Regions from separate parts of the Homo sapiens genome. Here region 1 is linked to region 2. The links come from fine-mapping of genetic effects on gene expression. A gene starts in region 2. The other region holds a variant in brackets. All regions are shown on one strand. Distances are from middle to middle. Region 1 overlaps PEX5 (peroxisomal biogenesis factor 5). Region 2 holds the start of PEX5 (peroxisomal biogenesis factor 5).

The links. PIP is the estimated chance that this variant, and not a neighbour inherited with it, causes the effect. A credible set is the group of variants that fine-mapping cannot tell apart.
Region 1: its variant is the best candidate, but not a certain one, in a credible set for the expression of PEX5 in skeletal muscle (GTEx, PIP 0.82).

What each region holds. Positions count from the first base shown.
Region 1 is chr12:7,208,933-7,214,304 of GRCh38, reverse strand. PEX5 (peroxisomal biogenesis factor 5) reads right to left here. Exons shown (of 16, transcript NM_001351132.2): 14 at 5,135-5,300; 15 at 4,465-4,622; 16 at 2,846-4,283. The coding sequence ends at 4,082. Among named protein-coding and RNA genes, the nearest start is that of PEX5, 22 kb to the right of the region's middle. The variant G/A (reference allele first, on the strand shown) is at 2,051.
Region 2 is chr12:7,186,630-7,192,001 of GRCh38, reverse strand. PEX5 (peroxisomal biogenesis factor 5) reads right to left here and starts at 2,316. Exons shown (of 16, transcript NM_001351132.2): 1 at 2,252-2,316; 2 at 1,478-1,640; 3 at 1,079-1,114; 4 at 644-776; 5 at 302-433. The coding sequence starts at 1,624. RefSeq lists enhancers at 1,490-1,569, 1,027-1,742, 1,600-1,749, 1,743-2,459, 2,460-2,519 and 2 more and silencers at 1,940-2,349, 3,370-3,419.

The sequences.
Region 1 (5,372 bases), 22 kb before region 2:
CTTTGCTATTGTGAATAGTGCCGCAATAAACATACGTGTGCGTCTTTATAGCAGCATGATTTGTAGTCCTTTGGGAATATACCCAGTAATGGGATGGCTGGGTCAAATGGTATTTCTAGTTCTAGATCCCTGAGGAATCACCACACTGACTTCCACAATGGTTGAACTAGTTTACAGTCCCACCAACAGTGTAAAAGTGTTCCTATTTCTCCACATCCTGTCCAGCACCTGTTGTTTCCTGACTTTTTAATGACTGCCATTCTAACTGGTGTGAGATGGTATCTCATTGTGGTTTTGATTTGCATTTCTCTGATGGCCAGTGATGGTGAGCATTTTTTCATGTGTTTTTTGGCTGCATAAATGTCTTCTTTTGAAAAGTGTCTGTTCATGTCCTTCGCCCACTTTTTGATGGGGTTGTTTTTTTCTTGTAAATTTGTTTGAGTTCATTGTAGATTCTGGATATTAGCCCTTTGTCAGATGAGTAGGTTGCGAAAATTTTCTCCCATTTTGTAGGTTGCCTGTTCACTCTGTTGGTAGTTTCTTTTGCTGTGCAGAAGCTCTTTAGTTTAATTAGATCCCATTTGTCAATTTTGTCTTTTGTTGCCATTGCTTTTGGTGTTTTAGACATGAAGTCCTTGCCCATGCCTATGTCCTGAATGGTAATGCCTAGGTTTTCTTCTAGGGTTTTTATGGTTTTAGGTCTAACATGTAAGTCTTTAATCCATCTTGAATTGATTTTTGTATAAGGTGTAAGGAAGGGATCCAGTTTCAGCTTTCTACATATGGCTAGCCAGTTTTCCCTGCACCATTTATTAAATAGGGAATCCTTTCCCCATTGCTTTTGTCAGGTTTGTCAAAGATCAGATAGTTGTAGATATGCGGTGTTATTTCTGAGGGCTCTGTTCTGTTCCATTGATCTATATCTCTGTTTTGGTACCAGTACCATGCTGTTTTGGTTACTGTAGCCTTGTAGTATAGTTTGAAGAAGTCAGGTAGTGTGATGCCTCCAGCTTTGTTCTTTTGGCTTAGGATTGACTTGGTGATGTGGGCTCTTTTTTGGTTCCATATGAACTTTAAAGTAGTTTTTTCCAATTCTGTGAAGAAAGTCATTGGTAGCTTGATGGGGATGGCATTGAATCTGTAAATTACCTTGGGCAGTATGGCCATTTTCACAATATTGATTCTTCCTACCCATGAGCATGGAATGTTCTTCCATTTGTTTGTATCCTCTTTTATTTCCTTGAGCACTGGTTTGTAGTTCTCCTTGAAGAGGTCCTTCACATCCCTTGTAAGTTGGATTCCTAGGTATTTTATAGCTTAATTCTTAAGTCATTTACACAGCCAGACTTTGTCATGTCCTGCACCTATGTAGTGTGGAAACTGCTCCTCCACCTGCCCAGCCCACTTCCCGCCTGGGTCTTTGCACCACCAACCTGCAGAGCCCAAGACACCAGCTGCCTCGTGATCCCCCAGGTGGTGACAGGTGCCACAACAGCTTCCTGTTTTCCTCCCCCAGGTGTTTAATTTTCTCCTCTAGAAAAGTATCAAACATGCACCAAGAAAATTTGAGAATTACAGAGAAGTATGATCTCCCCACTTTTAGCACATTGGGATAGTTCCCTATTGTCTTTTCAATGCATTTTTTTCTTAAGACAATCTGTAAATAATTGACCAACCATTTTTCTCACTATATTGTTAGCATCTATTGTCACTGGAAATTATTCCATAAATGATTAAATAGCAATAGCTATATTTCACTGTCTGGACAATTTACTTACCCAGTTGTCTTTTAGACCTGTTTTTTTTGTTTTTTGGGTTTTTTTTTTTTTTTTTTTTTTTTCTGGCAGCTTTTGAGCTCACCGGAAAAAAAAAATTAGACTTTGGCCAGGTATGGTGCTCCTCCCTGTGATCCCAGAACTTTGGGAGGCTGAGGCAGGATTCCTTGAGGCCAGGAGTTCAAGACCAGCCTGGTCAACATAGTGAGATCTAGTCTCTATTTGAAAAACTTTTTAAATAAATTTAAAAGTTAGACTTTTTTTTGGCTGGGCAC[G/A]GTGGCTCACGTCTGTAATCCCAGCACTTTGGGAGGCCGAGGTGGGTGGATTGCCTGAGGTCGGGCGTTCGAGACCAGCCTGACCAACATGATGAAACCCTGTCTCTAATAAAAATACAAAATTAGCTGGGCGTGGTGGCACATGCCTGTAATCCCATCTACTTAGGAAGCTGAGGCAGGAGAATCGCTTGAACCCAGGAGGCGGAGGCTGCAGTGAGCTGAGATCACGCCATTGCACTCCAGCCTGGGCAAAAAGAGTGAAACACTGCCTTAAAAAAAAAAAAACAAAAAAAAAAAAATTTTTTTTCCAAGTCTAATGTGCCCACAAACATCTATCTCCAAGTATAAATATTTGTGTATATTTTTAAATTTTTCCTCAGGATAAATACCCATCTTGATATGGCACTTGATACAGTTCCCGATAAAGGCAGGCAGAGCCAGATGAAAAGCTTTAGAAACCCTAAGCACTGAAAAACTATCAAAATCCTTCCATGTAATTCATAATACAAAACAACCTAACAATTATATGGCACTGCACACTTTCCTTTGTAGTAGTAACAGGAGTAAAAATTCATGATTATCGACATCTCTTTCTCCTGCTAGCCCAGAGGCCCAGAGAACAGGGACCCTGTCTCCTGTGCTCTATCATTTTTAGAGGGATGAGCAGGTAACCAATATACCAGTGAGAATTTGAAAGGCAGAAACTGTTGAATCCCAGTCCTCCAAACGCCAACTCACCTTCTGCCATCCCAGCTTCATGACCAGCAGAACTCATACCCACATCAGTTCCATTTATTCTTCGTACAAATATTTTACAGTTTTATTTTTAAATCATTTACACATATTCATACAAAGAAAAATAAATTTCAGGATGGAATCCTGGGACCATGGTAGTTTAAAAAAAAAATCTCTCTGATCATTAGCTACTAAAGACAAGGCAAGAGGCTTAGCAGTCATTTCTGGGGGTTAGTGTATCTCCCCATGCAGGGGACAACTGAGAAGAATCCAAGCTGCTCCCTCATCTTCCTTCGATCTAGATGGGGGAAGGGGATTTTCCAATGCTCTCCCCTAGAAACATTTCAAGAAGTACAGCAAAGGCTTATGGTAACACTGAACCTATTTGCTAGAAATCTGGCAAGATTGCACTTTCTGAACCAATTTTCTATAACAGTTGGCTCAATTCCCATTCACAGGTGCTTCTAAGAGGATGAGGGATTGCCGCACTCACCATACCCCCTTCCCACTTGCTCTGTCCTCCCACCAACGTTCCTGAATAGAGCCCTTGATCTCTTCTGATCTAGTCCCTCCCCGCTCCCACCCAGCCTCATTTCACAAGCAAACCTTCCTCCTATGCCACACACCCAGACACTCTGTAGCAATTGGCCCTGGCAGCTCCTGAGGACCGCTGCAGTGATGACACAGGACTATTGCATCAGCATCGTGCTCACAGGGAATCAGAGCTCAGCCAGGAGAGGTCCAAGAATGACAGAACCATGAGCACTCCTACCAAAACTCAGCTCTGCTCAGCCAAATCAACAATTCAACCCAACAGGCCAACTCCTAACACATCCCATCCAGACAGACATTAGAGGCGCACAGCAGATGAACCTCCTACTTACACTGCCCAAGGAAGCTGGACTATCAATTCCCAGTAAAAGTGGGGGAAAGGACAGACATTACAGATGTGGTAGACCCTATCAGAAATGGCAGCTGATGATAACAGTTACCCTAAATCGTGGGGTCCTACCCAAAAAGCAGCACCAAGAAAGGGCATGATGAGCAGAGAGATCTGTAGCTGGATGTACAGCCCTTGAATTACCAAGGGACTCAGAGATGACACAGCTCATTTTCCTACAATTATGTAGGAACTAGAACACAGACTACCCACCCCTACGTTGAGGCAGCTCCTGAAAGGCCGTACCGCTTATGGTCATCAGCCCGCCCCCTTGGTAGGCCCATTTGGGGAGAGGGAATCACATCCAAAGCGGGGATCCCTCCAGGTGGACACTCACAGGGCAGCCCGTCCCACTGTCACTGGGGCAGGCCAAACATAGTTAGGAGGGTGGACAGATCCCGCGCGTCGGCTGCCCCATAGGCATCGCTCTGGCCTAACATAGACAATGCCAAACGCAGGGTGCTCCAGATGTTCTCCGACATGGCACCTCCTTCACCCCGGGGGCCCCGGCTTTTCCTCTGCATGTTCAGGGCCTCCAGAAAGTGCTCCACAGCCTCCCTGTAAGGAAGAAGAGGAATGAGAGCTGTTAAGCTGAACAACAATGGAAGGAAGCAGGTCAGCTAGCAGTGGGAGGGAGAAAGCTAGGGCTGGTTAGTCAAACAGGATCTAAGAATAAGGAGCTAGGGCCAAAGGCAGGGAGAAAAAGCTCATTCATTCATTTCTCAATAGATACTCTCACCGGTGAGCCCCGAGGTTGATGCAGCTGATGCCCAGGTTATAGCGGGACCGGATATAGCCAGGCTGGAGCTCGAGGGCCCGGCGGTACGCAGCTACTGCTTCTTCACTCTGGTTTCCATTGGCCAGGGTGGCGCCTAGCTTATTCCACAGCAAATAGTCCTGGGATAGGGATGCAGAACGGATGGGAACAGCTTGACTCAGCTCAAACTCTGCACATTACTCCACCGACTCAGCTCAAACTCTGCACATTACTCCAGCTGTTTCACTACTCTGTTAGCTAACATGTTTCGTCCCATTCCATTCTCAACAGTTCGGTGTGTGGCTACAATGTAGCCCCTCTCACCCTATGCAGACTCTCTTATGTCCAGATGACCCTACACTCCCAGCCTTCTTTTCCCAGTCCTCCCAAGGCAGTCAGTACATGGAACACTGGAATGAAATACCCCAAGACTCCAAAAGTCTGAACAAATTATTCTTTTTTGTGGGGGTGGGCAGGGTCTTGCTATGTTGCCCAGGCTGGATTTGAACTCCCAGGCTCAAGTGATCCTCCCACTTCAGCCTCCCAAGTAGCTGGGACTACAGGCATGCACCATCAAACCCAGCTTCCCAACAAATGGCTCTTCAATAAGGTACACAGTCATGTCCCATTTCCATTCCTCCCCTGGGCTCACATTGGGACGAACGCTGAGGGCAGCTGTGAAGCAGTCCACGGCCTTGTCATACTCCCCACTCAGGTTGAAAAGGACTCCCAAGCCACACTGCACATCAGGGTCAATGGAGGTAGGGTCCAGCCGCACAGCTGCCAGGAAGAGCTCTTTCACTTCAAGAAACAGGGAGCTGGATGAAAAGGAAAAAAACACAAAGTAGGTAGATGAATGTCTCTATTCCCATCCCCCCAAATTAATTTCT
Region 2 (5,372 bases):
AACACTGCCATCCATCCAATCTGTAGATCCTCTCCACTAAACCACAGTGATAAAGTAAAAAGGCCAACCAAACTCTTCGTTCTCTCTATCCAAAATCTCTTATCCAGTACAAACCCAGTCCTCTCTTTAATATACATTACATTCCGTTATCACCTAAGGGAAATTGAGTTCAGTACCCTACCCCTCTAGAAATGAGTCATGAGACCAGAAAAATCGTAATCACACTATAACGTGAACAGGGGAAGGGTATAGAATTCTGTCCCATAGAAGCCAATATAGATTTTCCCATAACAAGTTTCACCTGTAACTTCAGAGATGAATTCTTGGGACCAGTCAGTCTCATTATAATCCTGAGTTACATCCACAGCATCTCCAGCTGCAAGAAACTCCTGGGCCCAGTTCTCAGACAAGGCCAAGTCTGCCACACCAGGGGCTTAAAAGAGAGAGAGAGAAAACTAAGAAAGAATACATACATACCATTCCATCATGCCTAAAGAACCCTGAATCCACGTGAAAACACTCTGTTACTTTTGTCTCCTTCTGCATCTCAGGTCCCCAATGCCAGCAGCATCCAATGGAACCCCCTTCCTTGGCCCTGGCTACATGGAAAACGATCTCCCCTCCCACTAGACTCTGGACTCACCTCTCTGGGGAGCCTGGCGGAAGTTTGACTGCTCAATCTGCTGCATCTCAGCCAGGAGGTCATCCATCTTGAAGGTCTGAGGGGCACGGGACACAAGGGGTGCATTCTGGTCCTGCAGGAATTCAGCCACCAACTGCCAGAAGGGAAATGATGAAATGAACCCATAGGCTTGGGAGGCCCCAGCAAGAGGCAGGACCCACTGGAGGGGGATCCCAATGTTAGATACAAGGAAAGGAAAACACAGAAACTGGAGACACATAAAGAGAAACTGTCTTTCCATAGATTTAGAAGGACGAAAAAATACATTTAAAAACAAGCAGGCATTCTCATTCGGTCAGGAAAGCCCAAAAATTGAAATACGGGTGAACTAAGTTTAAAGGTAAAAACACAGTGGGCAAGAGAAAAATGGGACAGAAAAGAGACTGGTCTATTTACCTCATCTTCAGAAGCTACTCCCAAAGGCTTGGAGGCCTAAGAGAGAAAGACAGAGATGTACAATGACGCAGTTCCTCTAAAATCAGGGGTTGATGAAGCCCATAGGCATCTGAGCCTCGGCTTCTTCATCTATAAAATGGTTGCATTTATTTAAAGGTGCACAGGGTTTTCTAGTGTTTATAAACGCTCAGTAAGTGGTAACTACTATGATTTGCAACACAATAGAGAAAGCAGTTATACCAAGATGTGCAAACAGCCCCTCCACCTCAGACCACCACCACCTGGGCTTTCCACCTCAAGAACACTCACTGCCTCAGAGGCTGCACCTGGGCTTTCCACCTCAAGAACACTCACTGCCTCAGAGGCTGCACCTGGGCTTTCCACCTCAAGAACACTCACTGCCTCAGAGGCCGGGGCTCCGGGGGGCCAGGGGCCAGGCCTCAATCCCTCCTGCCGAAGGGCCTTGTCCTGGGTGAAGTGCCCGGCGAGCTTCATGAGCGGGTTGGCACCCCCGCATTCGGCCTCCACCAGCTCCCGCATTGCCATGGTGACCGCCAGCTCTCTGATGGACACAGGAGGTTTGGAACTGAGGTACCCAAGCCAGACCCTTCTCACATCCACAACTCTGCCCGTATCTGAGGAAGGCACACAGGCGTCTGCCCCACACTGGCCGCCCTCCACCCCAGTGCTTTTGCTGCGACCCCCACCTCTGCCAGGAGTTCGAGGGAGGTCGGTACTCTCTCCTGCCGCCCCCCTCAAAGGCCACCGCTTCCAGCCTGCGCCTCTGCAGAGGCCTCCGCGACTACGGTCCCATGGGCTGGGGGCCAGCAGCTGCCTCCACAAAGGGGCCTGGACCCCGGGGGACCACGGGGACGCTTCAACAACCAGGCTGGACGGCGACACTGCCCGAAGAAGGGACAGTGGGAAAACAGCCCGACCATACCTAGCCCCGCGCAGCCCCAGCACGCGGTGAGCACGGCAGAGGAGCATTCCCTCCCCTTAAGTCACCGGAGCCCTTCCCCCGGCTCGGCCCGGTCCCTCCCGCGCTCCCCACCGCCCATCTCCCCGGCCCTGCTGCCGCTCCAGCCCCGCCCCTGGGACCCGCGAGGCCACCGCAAGGGTGGGGAGGGCCCAGGGACGCGGCCCCGGGCCCCCTCGGGGTCAGGCGCTCACCGCGGAGCGCCGCGCCGCACGACCCGCCGGGGCACCAGGTGCTGGCTTGGGGGAGGGGAGAAGAGGGGGCGGGGAGCCAGGGGGCGGGGCTCAGGCTTAAAGGGGCCGTGACCGCCCCGCAGCGGCCCAGGCCCAGCGGAAGCTGTCTGAAAAGGCGGGGCCTTAAGACTGCGACGCAGCCTGACGGGAAGAGCCGTGAGTCTTAAAGGGGAAGAGCACCTTAGAGAGCGGGTCTTGGAGAGTCGCCTTTAGGAGCGCTCGAAAAGGCCACGGGCCCTAGGATTTGTTTGACGGAAAGCTCAAAGAAGAGTGGAGCTAAGAAGGGCTTCCCAGGCTCTGGGGGAAAGCCGAAGACGCGAGATCCTAGGCTCAGTCGATCCTGCCTCTTCCCTTGGGCGCATTGTGACCTAAGGGGATTCAGTGCCCTTTCTGAGCCTCAGTTTTCCCCTCTAAAATGGGGCTGGCTAATGTTCCCAAGCCCAAGAAAGAGAAAAGCCCTAACACCAGGGGCTGGGGAGTCCAGTCCGAAGCCTTCTTCAGCCTCCTAGGCCTGCCCCGCTTCCAAATAACCCCTAGCGGGGTAGCGTCACTGTCTCCATGGAGACAGGGGCCCGCCCCCGCCTTAATCCCTCTCCACCTCTGCATAATGGGGAAAATAGCACTGCATGATGACAAATTCCGGAGACCAAAATAGGGTCCAACGCATCCTGAGACCTCGAGCTGGTAACGTACAGGGAAGGTGAACAGTGAGTCAGCCCTTCCTTCCGCTAAGTCAACATAGTGGCCTTATTCCCATCACTCCAGGCTGGGAAAGGACAAACATACAAGAAATGCTTTTAATCACGGAATAAGACTAAGCCTCAAGCCCCCTCATCTGCCAAAGAGTGTGCTCTGCTGTCAAACCTCAAAGTCATTGAGAAACAAACCCTGATAATCTCACCCAGCTTCAAGACCAAGGGAGTCCTAGTGTCATGGAGAAGAGCAAGGAGGGGCCCAGGGCTGCCGGTAAATGACCAAGGGCAATAATGCCAGACGAACAGAAGTACCATCCCAGCCCAGGGTGCATGAGCGGAGGCAGGCAGGCAGCAGGTGGCGCCATGGGCCGGGCTTGTTTCCTGGCTGTTCTGCAGATTTCAGAGGTGGAGGCCTCAGGGGGCCACAGGGAATGTCTGTGTAAACTCATCCCTGGGAAGACAGAGAAGCTGCTCTGACACCTCAGGGGAACAGAATGGCAGGGGACAGACCATAAGACTGTGCAACATTTCTCCTTTTCCTTGCCTTTTCGCCCTCTTTCAGAGGCCCCACTTCTACACCCCGTTTTCTTCCGGAGCACACAAATCCCAGCCCTTGGGCGTCCCCTGTTCTCAGGCTGCCATCGTGAGGAAAATACCTGATAAACTAAACCACACAAGGATGAAGAGATGCCCTCCAGAAGGTGCATACTTTTAAAAAGAGGACCCCCTAGAGAGAGCAATGTTTAAAGGAACCCATCTGATACAGTAGAATTTCAGAACCTCAAGGCAACCAGAGTTTCCCAGTACCACTTAAACATCACAACACACATAACCTTCTGCTCTGCTAGGAGTTTATCAACTGATTAGCCGTAACTCACTTTGTGTGCAGATCTTGGAAGAATGCTAATAATAATAACTGATGTTTACTAAAATCCAGGTGTTGTGTAAAACACTTTATGTATCTCAATGTTTTTAATCTTCTTAATACCCCTATTAAATAGATATTAGTAGACCCACTTTACAGATAAGACTTGTGCAAAATCAGATGGCTAGGAAGTCAAAATTTAATCCAGGCATAACTCTAGGCACCTACTTCCCAGTCTTAGAGAAGACTTACTGATAAACCATGGAGATCTTTGATCTCCTAGGCCATAGAATCATTCACAGAACTTGGTCCACAGTCCCAGCCAGAGGTGCTGGGAAAGGGCTAATAGAGTGACTTTGGTGTTTAATATTTAATTTACTGAAGCTCTAGATTTGAAACCCTAGATTTTGTTAATCCAGGTTCAACTTTAAATTCTTGTTCTATTCATAAAAGTAGTAATTTTTATAAAATAAAAATAATTTTTACTTATTCTTTAATGTTTGACGAATTCAAGTTCAATAGATGTTTAGACACACATTGCATTGACTGTGTGCCAGGCATTGTTTCAAGCACTTTTCAACTATTGATTTATTTAATCCTCCTAATAGTTATTAATAATAACTATTATCCCCCATTTTACAAAAGAGGAAACTGAGGCACAGAGAAGTTGAGTGACTTGCACAAGGTCATACTAATAAATAGCAGAGCTGGGATTTGAACCCAGACCACGGTCACCAAACTGTAAAGGGCTCAATGGTCAATATTTTTGGCTTTGTAGTCCATGCAGTCTCTGTCACAGTGACTCAACCCTGCTGTTGGAGCACAAAAGCAGACATAGGCCACACCTAAACAAATGAGCATGGCTGTATTCCAGTAATGCTTTTTATGGGGACTGAAATGTGAATTTTATATAATTTTCATGTTACAAAATATTCTTCTTCTTTTGATGTTTTTCCAACTATTTAAAAATGTCAAATACTTATTTGTTTTGAGACAGTCTTGTTCTGTCACCCAGGCCGGCATGCAGTGGCGCAATCTCGGCTCACTACAACCTCTACCTCCTAGGTTCAAGTGATTCTCCTGCCTCAGCCTCCCGAGTAGCTGGGACTACAGGCACATGCCACCATGCCCAGCTAATTTTCGTATTTTTAGTAGAGATGGGGTTTCACCATGTTGGTCAGGCTGGTCTCAAACACCTGACTTCAGATGATCCACCCCCCTTGGCCTCCTGAAGTGCTGGGATTACAGATGTGACCCACCGTGCCCAGCCAAAAAACGTCAAATACTTCTTAGCTTGCAGACTATGGAAAAACAGGGACCAGGCCATAGTTTGTGGATCTTTGACCTACACAGTCTTATTCCAGAGTCCATGCTCTTAAACACTGTGCTGTACTTCTGCTTTTTAGAAATAAAAGACAAATTTCCTAATATTTTTAACTATGTGACATTTAATATTCATATTTTAAATACCTGACAGGGCAAACAACACTACTAGGCAAAACCTTTCTGAACTTTTATTCAA